Regions from separate parts of the Homo sapiens genome. Here region 2 is linked to region 1. Evidence: fine-mapped expression QTL. A gene starts in region 1. The other region holds a variant in brackets. All regions are shown on one strand. Distances are between the middles of the regions.

Region 1 (5,381 bases):
TTACAGAGAAAAATGACCATAAAAGATGTCATAGAGAGTTACAACTGGTCATTCTTGAGGGGTCCCTCAAGCTGGCCTTCCATCTTGGGGTTGATTTGATAAGCTCTCAAAAGATGATTTCAAGTGTGCACCCAGGGGCGATGGATTTCCTGGTATGATTTCTCATAAATATATGCATGAATTTATGAATATATACATATTTATATATACATATATATATATATATTATACACACACTTTCAGCATATAGACCAGATTACTAATTAATTTCCAAATGGAGACATCCTTTATCAGAAACTACCCTCCCCAGGGCTACTTCTACAGGTTTCTACTTCTCCTTCTGAATAATGGGTAAGAAGCTGAATGTGTCCAGGAAGTGTCCCAGTGAGCATGAAATCAGAACCTTCCCTCTTTTCTTTCCAGTGGTTAAAAAGTGGGCCTTGATTAAAAACTGCTCTGCCGCTTGCCGATGAGCTTGTCCTTAGGCAGTTTCTCAGATTCACTATGTCTTGGTTTTCCCAGCTGTAGAATGCAAATAGCAATGATACCTGACACAGGGTTCTTGTATAAAGTGCTCAGAACAATAAGTAGCACCTGTTAAACACAATGTTCATTTTTATGATTACATTTTTTTCTAGTAGTTTAGAAATATAATTTCCATGATAATGTAACAGCCCTAATGGCCCAAAAAAAAAGCCCATATTATTTTTTTTAACCCCTGCATATTATTCGAAATCCAGGAGTACCAAGAAAGATCTCACCTGAGAAGGCTAATTGTGTAGTTTTTTCTCTTCCTTTATACACTATACCTGGGAGTTAGCTCCACTCCTGGATTAACTCTTATTTCTCTATTTTCTTTCTGTTTTACAACAATTCATCACACCACATATGTAGATGACTGTGTGTATGTGAACATGGCAAGTGAAACCTCACGATCTCCAGGCTGTTCGGTGAAGCTTTATGCGAATTCATTTCACCTACACCCTTCCCCTGCCCACCCAAGGCCTTGAACCGAAGCCTGTGATCCCCTCCCAAGTTGGATCCTGCCCTTCGCCAAAGGCAAGACCGCTGAAGGCGTGGCCTTCTAGATGATTCATCAGGTTGGCGGGCTCTCCCTCCCCTCCCCCTTGCCCAGGGGACACCCTGTCCGCGTGAAGAGGGGGGCCTTTGTGTGAGTGATGTTTCTCAATTATCAAACTAGTGGCGTGAAACCTTTTCCTGAAACACCTGAGTGTAAAAGGTTTTGTTACCTCCCTTTTTTTCTTTTAAATAATAAAGGAATAGCCACACCTACCTTAGTTTCTATTGGATAAAAAGGTGAATAGTTTTGTTGTGGTGGTTGTTGTTGTTTTAAGCCTTCAACTCTCAAAAGGCACAGAGTTCCCAGGTGCAAAGAGGTAGCTTAGACCTGTCTGGGGCGGATCGGGGACAGGAGCCAGCTCCCCTGAGGTCGAGCACCAGAGCCGGCCCCCAGACCCCGCCCTCGACTACAATTTCTCTTCCTTCTCCTCCCCCTTGCTTTGCGAGCTATTGACTGACTGCAGCCAGCTGAGGCCCAGGCTGTGGGAATCCGGACTTCCTTTTCTTCCCTCTCCCATTTTTCCTTCTTCCTCCACCCTCCCCCAAACCAAACCCCAAAACCTCTAGGTAGTCCAATATTAAAACCGGTGGAACAAAAGCATTCCCAAAATCAGGAGGAGGGAAAGAAGAAGACGAGGGAGGCAAAAGTAGGAGGAAAATAGGAATGTCAACATTTATTTTCCTGAAGGGGAAAAAAAATTCTCTCTGGGCAGGCAGGCCATCTTCCGGGACGGGGAATCCACAGTTTCCTCAGGTAATGAGTTCCAGGGATGCTGGATGCAGGTGGTAAAAATACGCAGCGTTTCAATGGGATGATGGGAGATGTTTACAGCCCTCCTGGGAAGATGCCAGAGAGTTTAACAGTCCTGGGATACCTCCCAGCTGCCTGCTCTGGTGCTGGATGAGTTTACGCCTCCTTTCCTGCTGGAAAAGGTGAAGCAACCAGTGACTTGTCCAGGGTCACACACCACGCTTGGGACAGAAATAACTCTGACGTCTCTTTCCTGGCTATATCAGCAGACAACATCGCCTAATGACAGTACTACCATTCCAATCTGAATCATTTAAATTGCTCCTAATTGCAGGCCTGCAGTGCACTGTAACTGCCGTATGACTCTAACTGCCAAGCCAGCCGAGATAGGAATGACTGAAGTTTTGCAAATTCCTGAATATGGAATTAAAAATGCTGGGCGGGGGAGGGGGTAGCGCAAAAGTGTTTGAAAACCACTTTGAAACTGCTGACAGGTATCCTATTTCAAATTGTTTAAAAGATGAATTGGAAATGTCAACTTAAATTTGTCATTTTATTGGAATTAGAGAAACACTTGGTGTTCAAATGGATGCGGTTCGAAAAGGCACCTCAGATATTTCTAAGAAGTTCGGCTTCACACTCTTCCTTTTTGTGTCTGCTAAATTACTGTCTCATTTTGGTGTTTAAACTTCCCTTTTAACTCCTTTGTGGGCAGATATGGGGAAAGGGGAGGGCCTGGGAAACAACCAGGCATTTGACTTCAGATCTGAACACGGGGCTGGACACGTGCTGTGCTCAGGAAAGAAAGTAAATTCCACCTGGCAAATTGCTCTAACTGATTTATTTGTCCACAAAGAGACGCCACCTACCTGCTTGCAGGTATTCAGGTAAATGACAGGTGGGCGGGGCCTCCTGACTCTTTCAATCCCTAAGGTCTCAGCAATGCTTTATCTGTCGGGGCTTCCGTGATGTCACCCATTTCCTGGTCTGGAGCGACCAATGCCGTCCTCCTTCCTCCAGGCACCTGTTCACCGAAGTTGAGGCTGGTCACAACTCCGGCGGCCCAAGGAGCTGCTCGGTTCACCCACAAGGAATGAGAGCTGCCTGCCTGCTGCTGCTTGGAGAGCCCCAGACAGTCGCTTGAAGAGGTGAGTTGAAACCCTCCATTTTTCTCTCTTGGCATTTAGACCACTGGCCCCTGAGGGATCTGAACACGGAATTTGAATGAAAAAATACAAGCTGAACGGCTTGTCGCTAGTGTTTGCCCCAGAGGGAGAAGCTTTTTTGAGACAGAAGAGTAGAGAGATGACTTTGACATTCTAGTTGCACAATAAACTTCTCCCAGGCCAGATATTTAATCCTTTTTGTTTCTCTGATCATTAATCCAGCCTGTGCTTGTCCTCGTACTTGATCTGATTAAAACAACAACAACAACCTAAAGAGAAGTAGAGTGAAGGCTTTTGTTTTGAAACTTAGCGCGAAGGTGCAGATCTGTTCAGCCCGTTTAACGGGGGCTAGGAGGCCAGTGCAGACTGGATTCAGAGTTCTTATTTTTCCTTTTCTTCCTCCCTGTATTTTGATCTAAACCTGTGAAGTGTCCCTAGTTTTTTTTTCTTTCCCCCTGAAAACCTGTTCCTCAGGGCAAATTCTGTTGCCCTATTCAGAAGCTGTGCGTTCCAGTTTTCCTCTCTTCTCTGAAAAAGTCTACCATTTTCTTTGCTCTTTGTTGAACACTCTTTTAAATACGACTTTGCAGTGTGCATTTAGAATTTGTTTACATTTAGACCTGGACTGGCTGCCTGCTGACCTTTGGTTACAGTAAGAATTAATTCCCTCATTGCTGCAAGAATGTGACTTCAGGTCTGATTTTTAATTTTTTGGACCTCTTTGGCTTTTTCTGTCTCTTTTTCTTTTAATAGCAAATATACCGAGGAAGTTGTTCTGCCAGGACCTGGCTTTTAAAGTAATTTTACCTCTAGGATCCATTTTTGTTTTCTTAATCCTGATCACACAGCCTGTATCTTGACAGCCCAATAGTCAAACTCTTTAGCCAATATTGTTGTCAGAGAAAGGAAACCATTTTTAAGCCCAGCTGCCTGCTGGGATGAGCTGGAAAAACTGGAAAAAGAAATAAATCTGCGAGACACTTCATTCTAGATTCCAACATCAGCTGTTTTTCTGAGATTTAAGTTAGCAGATGTTTGCAAGGGAATAATCTGTTAGGAATTATGCTCCTGTTCATCCACCCAGAAATACAAAATGCATGTAAATTCTCCCAAGGTATGAATTGAAACAAGCTGAGATCATTTTTGCCTTAGACAGACAGTCGTTCCTCACCACTAAGAATCTGCCCAGTTCTTGTTGCTAATTTCTGTCTTACTGTTTGGAGGTCCCTATTGTTCTTCCTTAACTGACCTTTGTTTATTATTTTCCCCAAGCTTGTGAGTTTAAGGGGGGGGGTTTGGCCACCACTTGTCTCTTACTAAGGTTCTCACTTGATTCAAAGCTTGGATCTTCTGATAAAAGTGCATCTAAACCTCTCCTCAAGATTACATTGCCTCTGGTTTACCATGGTTGATTAGTGCTTTTCACAGTAGTTAATTTATGATTAAATAAATAATTTCATCACTGTATGTCAGCATGTCTGAGTACTAAAGGAACAAAGCTGTAGACACTGTACCCCCAGGTAGAAGAAAGAAAAGAAGTGACAAAGACTGGAATTCAGAGTCAGATTGACTAGAATGCAGTTGGTCTGTTGGGTAATTTACACACAAGTCCTGTCCAGAGTTCCTGTGGTAACTCCACCCATTGGTTCAAGTGGACATAGGCCTGATGGAAAAATGTGCAATCTCCTTCATTTATATCCTTGAGCAAGTTACTTCTCTGACTTTCAGTTTCTTCATCGGTAAGATGGGAGATAATAATCCCCATGATCTAATGTGGTTGTGAGAAGTAAATGAGGTAGCTAATATATGTTAGCATCCAGCGACCAATGCCTGGTGTTAACTGGTGCTAAACTGAGGCTAGGTTCTTCCTTTGGAAGGAATTTTCCTAGGTTGCTTGGAGGAGAGAGTCTGACTCTATCAAGATAAAGATCATATGTGGTTGCAGTTGTAGGAACCTTGATAGTTCTTGTTATTGTAATTAATTGTAGGTAATTAACTGCAATGTTAACAGTTTGGAAAAAGAAAACAGGCAGGAGAATTCTTAAACAATGTCATCAAACAAGGTGGGCAGATTTGTCTCCGCTAGCCTCACAGGCAAAGCTTTTAGGAGTTGCTGGCTGGCTGTGATTTCTTCCTTTTCCCACTCTAAGGCTCTCATCCTGCAACAGACCCACAAAATGTGATTCTCCATGGGCCTTTCGGGGGAAATGTCCAGTTGTCATTGCTGTAATCTGACTTGGCAGAGAGTTCTTTTTGCTGTCAGTCGTGCTATCTCCAGGGCAGACTGGGTGTTTGGTCTCCTCCAGTCTCACAGATAAACACCCTTCTCCCTAACCAGAGTGAGGGTTCATGCCGAGCCTCTGGCAGGAGGAAGCCCCTGGTTT
Region 2 (5,381 bases), 43 kb after region 1:
CTACCTACTGTAACAGAAGGATGAGGCCTCGGGGAGAAACTGCCAAAAGCGGTAAGAGTTATGGGCAGCCTTATGTATGCCCTTCCTGCAAAATGTGGTAGGCCCCAGGAGTCAGAGCCACAGAACACACCAAGCTCTTAGAACCAAGGATTCCAACCACCAACCGCCTCCTAGGTTAACTGACTCTAACCTAACCTGCGACATACACCTCTGACAAACTGCACAGACTTCATGCAACAAGAACATTCATTTTGGGGCTCACAGGCCCAAAGAGAGCTTTAAATCAAACCCAGCTGGGCGTTCCAGGCTTTCAAGTGGGGAGGTTGCTTGCCTCCATTTTCTGTATCTATTTCCATCTATCCATTACGCCCTGGTCTGGCTTTTCAGTATCCCCTTCTCTAGGTGAAGGCTGTGTGGCAAGACCACCCTTAGTAGCTCCTTTTCCTGCCTACTAACTTCAGTCAGACCTGGGCCAGGTATTGGGCCATGAACTCCAGGACCTGGGGAAGTGCCTTTTTAAAAAAGCTTTATACTAATGGAGATCCACACAGGAAGGTCCAGATGATTATGGTTGGATTTTTTCTGGGGTGAATGAGTCGGGAGTGAGTGGAATACAGTGGATTGCCTTAGCATCCATTTCCTCCCCACTTCATTTTCACTGTGTTAGCCATTCCCAACACTTTCAAAGTTCAAACCAACAGGGTGAGCTTTATGGATTTGCCAGCAAATGTTTTCCAAATTGAGTCTCCAAGAATTTGTTTCTTTCTTATCAAAATTGAAAAGGGGAAAAAAAAGTGTTGCTGATCCCTGGATTTGTCTTGTCCTGTGTTTTGAGCATCTGAAGTAGAATTTGGACGAGGACCTGGAAGGAAGGAGGTAGAGTTTACAGAGGAAATGGGGTATGTTGGAGAAATCATATTCCAACAGGAACAAGATCCAGTCTTGGGGCAAAGCCAGGGCCCATTTGGGCTCAATGACTCTCGAAGCATTTCAGTTCAGCACATGTTTAACAGGGCATTTTTCCTTGAATTTTTAAACTTGTGTATTTTGAAGGAAATTGAAGCCGCATGGCCCTCATTCATTTACATTGAACTCACCAAAATCTTGTTTTGTAATGATTCTTTGATGTCCAAAGAGCATTGTGATCCTGTTTCATGATTTTATTTTTTCCCCCCTTTGAGAATTAGCAAATTCTTTTTTGCCAGCAGTAAAGCCACTCCAGTTCCAAGCTGTTCACTCCCTGGTCCAAAGTGTTCTCCTCCTAGGGAGGCCACCCTAAACAAAACCCAGCAGTTTCAAGATGCCACTCTGATGCTTGGCAAATTGTGCTTGTCTTTCTAGTTCCATGACTATGTCAGGCGGATAAGAGGCAAAGCTGGGATGTCCGTAAGAATCTCACTGACCGCTTCATGTTGGTTGACTTATTTTCTTCATTTTAACTTATAATGGAAAACTACAAACAATATAAAAGGAGAGAAAAGATTATAATAAAACTCCATGTGGCCTATACCCATCTTCAGCAATTGTGAATTCAAGGCCATCTTATCGATATCTCCTTTAACTGTTTTTGAAGCACATCTCAGATGATAATGTCATTTCATCTGCAAGAATTTCAGCACCTATCTCTAAAGATAGATTCTTAAGAAATGTGAGCACAATACTAATATCACACCAAAAACAACCATAATTCTTTAATAACAAATATCTAGTTTGTGTGAATCATGAGCTAAATACAATCTACACGTTGCAATTAGTTGCCACATCTCTTAAGTTTCTTTCAACCTCCTCCTCCTCTTCTCCGTTCTTCATTCTCCGCCGATACAAAGGAGCTCTTGAAGTAAATTCTGAGGAATATAGCTTTGGCAAATTCCAAATACTGGGCTAGTAACTGAAAAAGAGAAAAATAGAACAATGGTTTTAATTTACTGTCCAAGTTGAAAGAAATGTAAGAAAGCAAAGGTCCAAAACATTGAGCATTGAAGTCTATGAATGTAACTACAATTTTACCCAAGATGAGTGTCTTTTATGACCTTGTTGCCCAGAAGCTTTAAGGGGAGAACTTATTTTTTTTACTTTTATTTTAGATTTGGGGGGTACATGTCAAGGTTTGTTACATAGGTAAATACATGTCATGGGGGTTTGCACATATTATTTCATCACATAGGTATTAAACCCAGTACCCAATAGTTATCCTTTCTGTTCCTCTCCCTCCTCCTACCCTCCACCTTCAAGTAGACCCCAGTGTCGGTCATTTCCTTCTGTGTGTTCAGAAGTTCTTACCATTCAGCTCCCACTTAGATATGCAGCATTTGGTTTTCTGTTCCTGCATTAGTTTGCTAAGGATAGTAGCCTCCAGCTCCGTCCATGTTCCTGTGAAAGACATGATCTTGTTCTTTTTTATGGCTGCATAGTATTCCATGGTATATCTATACCACATTTTCATTACCCAGACTGTCATTGATGGGCATTTAGTTTGATTCCATATCTTTGCTATTGTGAATACTGCTGCAAAGAACATTTGCGTGCATATGTCTTTATAGTAGAATGAATTATATTCCTCTGGGTTTATACCCAGTAATGGGATTGCTGGGTGGGATGGTAGTTCTTCTTTTAGCTCTTTGAGGAATTGCCATACTGCTTTCCAGAATGGTTGATTTAATTTACACTCCTGCCAACAGTGTATAAGTATTCTAATGGGAGAACTTTAAGAGACTG[G/T]AGAAATATCTCCACAGGGCAATAATCTTGCAACTTCTTGATCACAGACCTATATCAATCAATAAATTTCTCCATTGCTTGTCTTATGTATAGTTATCTATATAAAATTATATACATATACTACTACATTAATACATCCATGATAAAACAGGCACAAAAACATTGTTAAAGAATAGAAAAAATATACCTAAGAGTTCTATGACAATCTGCCCACTTTCAGGGCTCATTGGTAAAACAACTTCTTCAAAGTAAATGGAGGAAAATTGCTCACTGCCAGTCTGTGGAGTTGGTCTTGGAAGGAATGGGGCAGGAAATGGTCTACTTCTGCAGGCCAAATAAAACTTGGCAGGCCAAGGAAGCAGACATCCTTTTCTCATAGTCATATTTCCCCCGACTTTTTTTTTTTTTCAACCATCACTCCTTCTGTGTGCTCATGTGGCCCCACGCCCTTCCAGCTTTCTCTGAGGCCCACCACCCCCAACCACACCTGCTTTCATTACCACCAAGATTGGAACTGGAGGATCCAGGTTTATGAAACTTGAAATGTTCAGAATTTGAGTCCTCTTTTTAAAAAGGAAGGTAAAATTGTGAATTCACAACTGGTAGGTCCCTGTCAGGTTCTTGGAAAGGCACATGCATGCCAGGACCCCCGAACCATATTCATCAGCCTTACAGTCATCATCCCCCTCCATGGGAGCTCTGAGGTACCAAATTCACCTTCCTTTCTTTCTGACTCCTTCTTCTTATTCTCTCATATTTTCCTGTAAAGCCATCTCTGGGAATTCTGGTGCCCTTCTAAGCCCACTTCTCCCATGTTTAACTCTTGCATACCCAGAGCTGGAGCTGTCTTCCTGGTTGCCCCATGAGCCAAGAATGTACCTGTGAGCCCTTCCCGACTTTCTTCCTTTGTTAGCAGCTCTATCCAGAACAGTAGGGGAGGGAGAGGTCAGGGACCCCAGAAACAAGTCCACTTGTCATCCCAAGGACTGTAATCCAGTAGCTCTCTGCTGAAGGTGAGATGACCTAGTGATTCAAGGCACATGCTCTGCAGTCAGACTGACCCCAGTTCCTATATAGTCTCCTCTAGCTGGGCAAACTTGGGCAGGTTACTTACCTTCTCTGAGCTTTTCTCACCTATAAATGGGAATAACACTTACCTCACAGGCTGTTGTGAGATTATGTAAAGCATTTAATATAGTGCCTGGTACATAGGAAACCCTTAACTTGTGGATTTTATCATGAGTAATGGAGGGAGTTAGAATATATTTCATCAATTCTAAGACATACTTCTTAATGTCTCCTGTAAATAGATTCCATCTTAGAATTGATAACGCCATGCAAAGATAATTTGCAGTGTCTATCTTTCTTGGTTATCTGTAAAAATAATGGTGCGCCTCACAATAGACATAGTCTTCGATTTGATATAATTTGGTAACAACTAACTTTATCCACAGTAAGCACAGGTGGACTGAGATCAAGAAACTGGAGTTGCTGTAACCATACAGTCTCTTCCTCCCTCTCACTGAAGAGGCAGGGAAATGGCTGACTTGAGCTGAGAAAGGGGTAACTAGCTTAGGGGAAATTCCATGGAGAGAGGCCTGAGCTACTTGTCAGTGGCTGAGGCCTCGCCTTCCACACAGCTCTGCCTCCACAAGTGGCTCGGTCTTTACCACATCTGCCAGTCTCTTGACTCTGCCCCCGACTCCCTCCCCAGCCTTCATTCCTCAGCTATTTAGCTCCTTGCTGCCCTCACACTGCAGCTCCTCTTTCCTATTTTCCTCCTTCCCCAGTTTGAAGAGGAAGACTGAATCCAGCTTGTTGCTTGGCTGGTGGTGTCTGTGGCCCAGAACCATAAATTTTTGAGAGCCGAAGGAGAGCTTGGAGATGATTTAGTCTAATCCCCCTATTTTATAGATGAAGAAACTAAGGCCTAATAATTTACCCAAATGACTCAGCCCTGCCAGTAACAAGCTATGTGACCTTGAACAAGTTATGACATTTTTTTGGAAATAAGAGTAAAGCATTCATCGTTTTATGATATGTGTCCTGAGGAAGCAATAAAATTGGAGCTAGTGGTTAAAATTTTAAACTACCAGCTCTAGGCAAAGCAATGACATAGAGGTGACACAGTGTGGCAAGTGACCCTGCACAGCACCCATCATGAATGCAGCATCCTCTGATGGAGTCTGACCACCTGGGCCTGCTCAGAATGGTAACATGGGATTTCCTCGACCAATTTTGAACACGTGCAGCCTGGGTCCATTTGACAGCAATAAGGCTTTATGTCTGAATATGCTCTTCCAGGGATTTTTATCTAATTCTAAGAGTTTCATATACAAAGGATGGCAGCAGAGAGGCAGGGCAGAGTTCAGTCATGAAACATTAACAAGCTTTAGCTTGTATTGATTAAAAATGTGGCCTCTGGCCCAGTGCAGTGGCTCATGCCTGTAATCTCAGTACTTTGGGAGGCTGAGGTGGGTGGATCACTTGAGGTCAGGAGTTTGAGACCAGCCTGGCCAACATGGTGAAACCCTGTCTTTACTAAAAATACAAAAATTATCTGGGCATGGTGAGGTGCACTGTACTACCAGCTACTCAGGAGGTTGAGGCGGGAGAATTGCTTGAACCTGCGAGGCAGAGGTTGTAGTGAGCTGAGATAGCACCAT

Alleles and levels. Alleles are on the strand shown, and positions count from the first base shown. SD is a standard deviation of normalised expression in the study named.
In carriers of allele G in region 2, the expression in aorta of the gene that starts at base 2,881 in region 1 tends to be higher than with T alone (moderate effect, 0.49 SD a copy in GTEx).

Evidence for each region. PIP is the estimated chance that this variant, and not a neighbour inherited with it, causes the effect. A credible set is the group of variants that fine-mapping cannot tell apart.
Region 2: its variant is the best candidate, but not a certain one, in a credible set for the expression of LNX1 in aorta (GTEx, PIP 0.52).

What each region holds. Positions count from the first base shown.
Region 1 is chr4:53,588,986-53,594,366 of GRCh38, reverse strand. It overlaps LNX1 (ligand of numb-protein X 1), which reads left to right and starts at 2,881. Exons shown (of 11, transcript NM_001126328.3): 1 at 2,881-2,979. It overlaps LNX1-AS2 (LNX1 antisense RNA 2), which reads right to left and starts at 1,411. Exons shown (of 2, transcript NR_046827.1): 1 at 1,295-1,411. RefSeq lists an enhancer at 789-1,701.
Region 2 is chr4:53,545,864-53,551,244 of GRCh38, reverse strand. The region is part of intron 2 of LNX1 (ligand of numb-protein X 1); the gene reads left to right. Among named protein-coding and RNA genes, the nearest start is that of LNX1, 43 kb to the left of the region's middle. The variant G/T (reference allele first, on the strand shown) is at 2,716.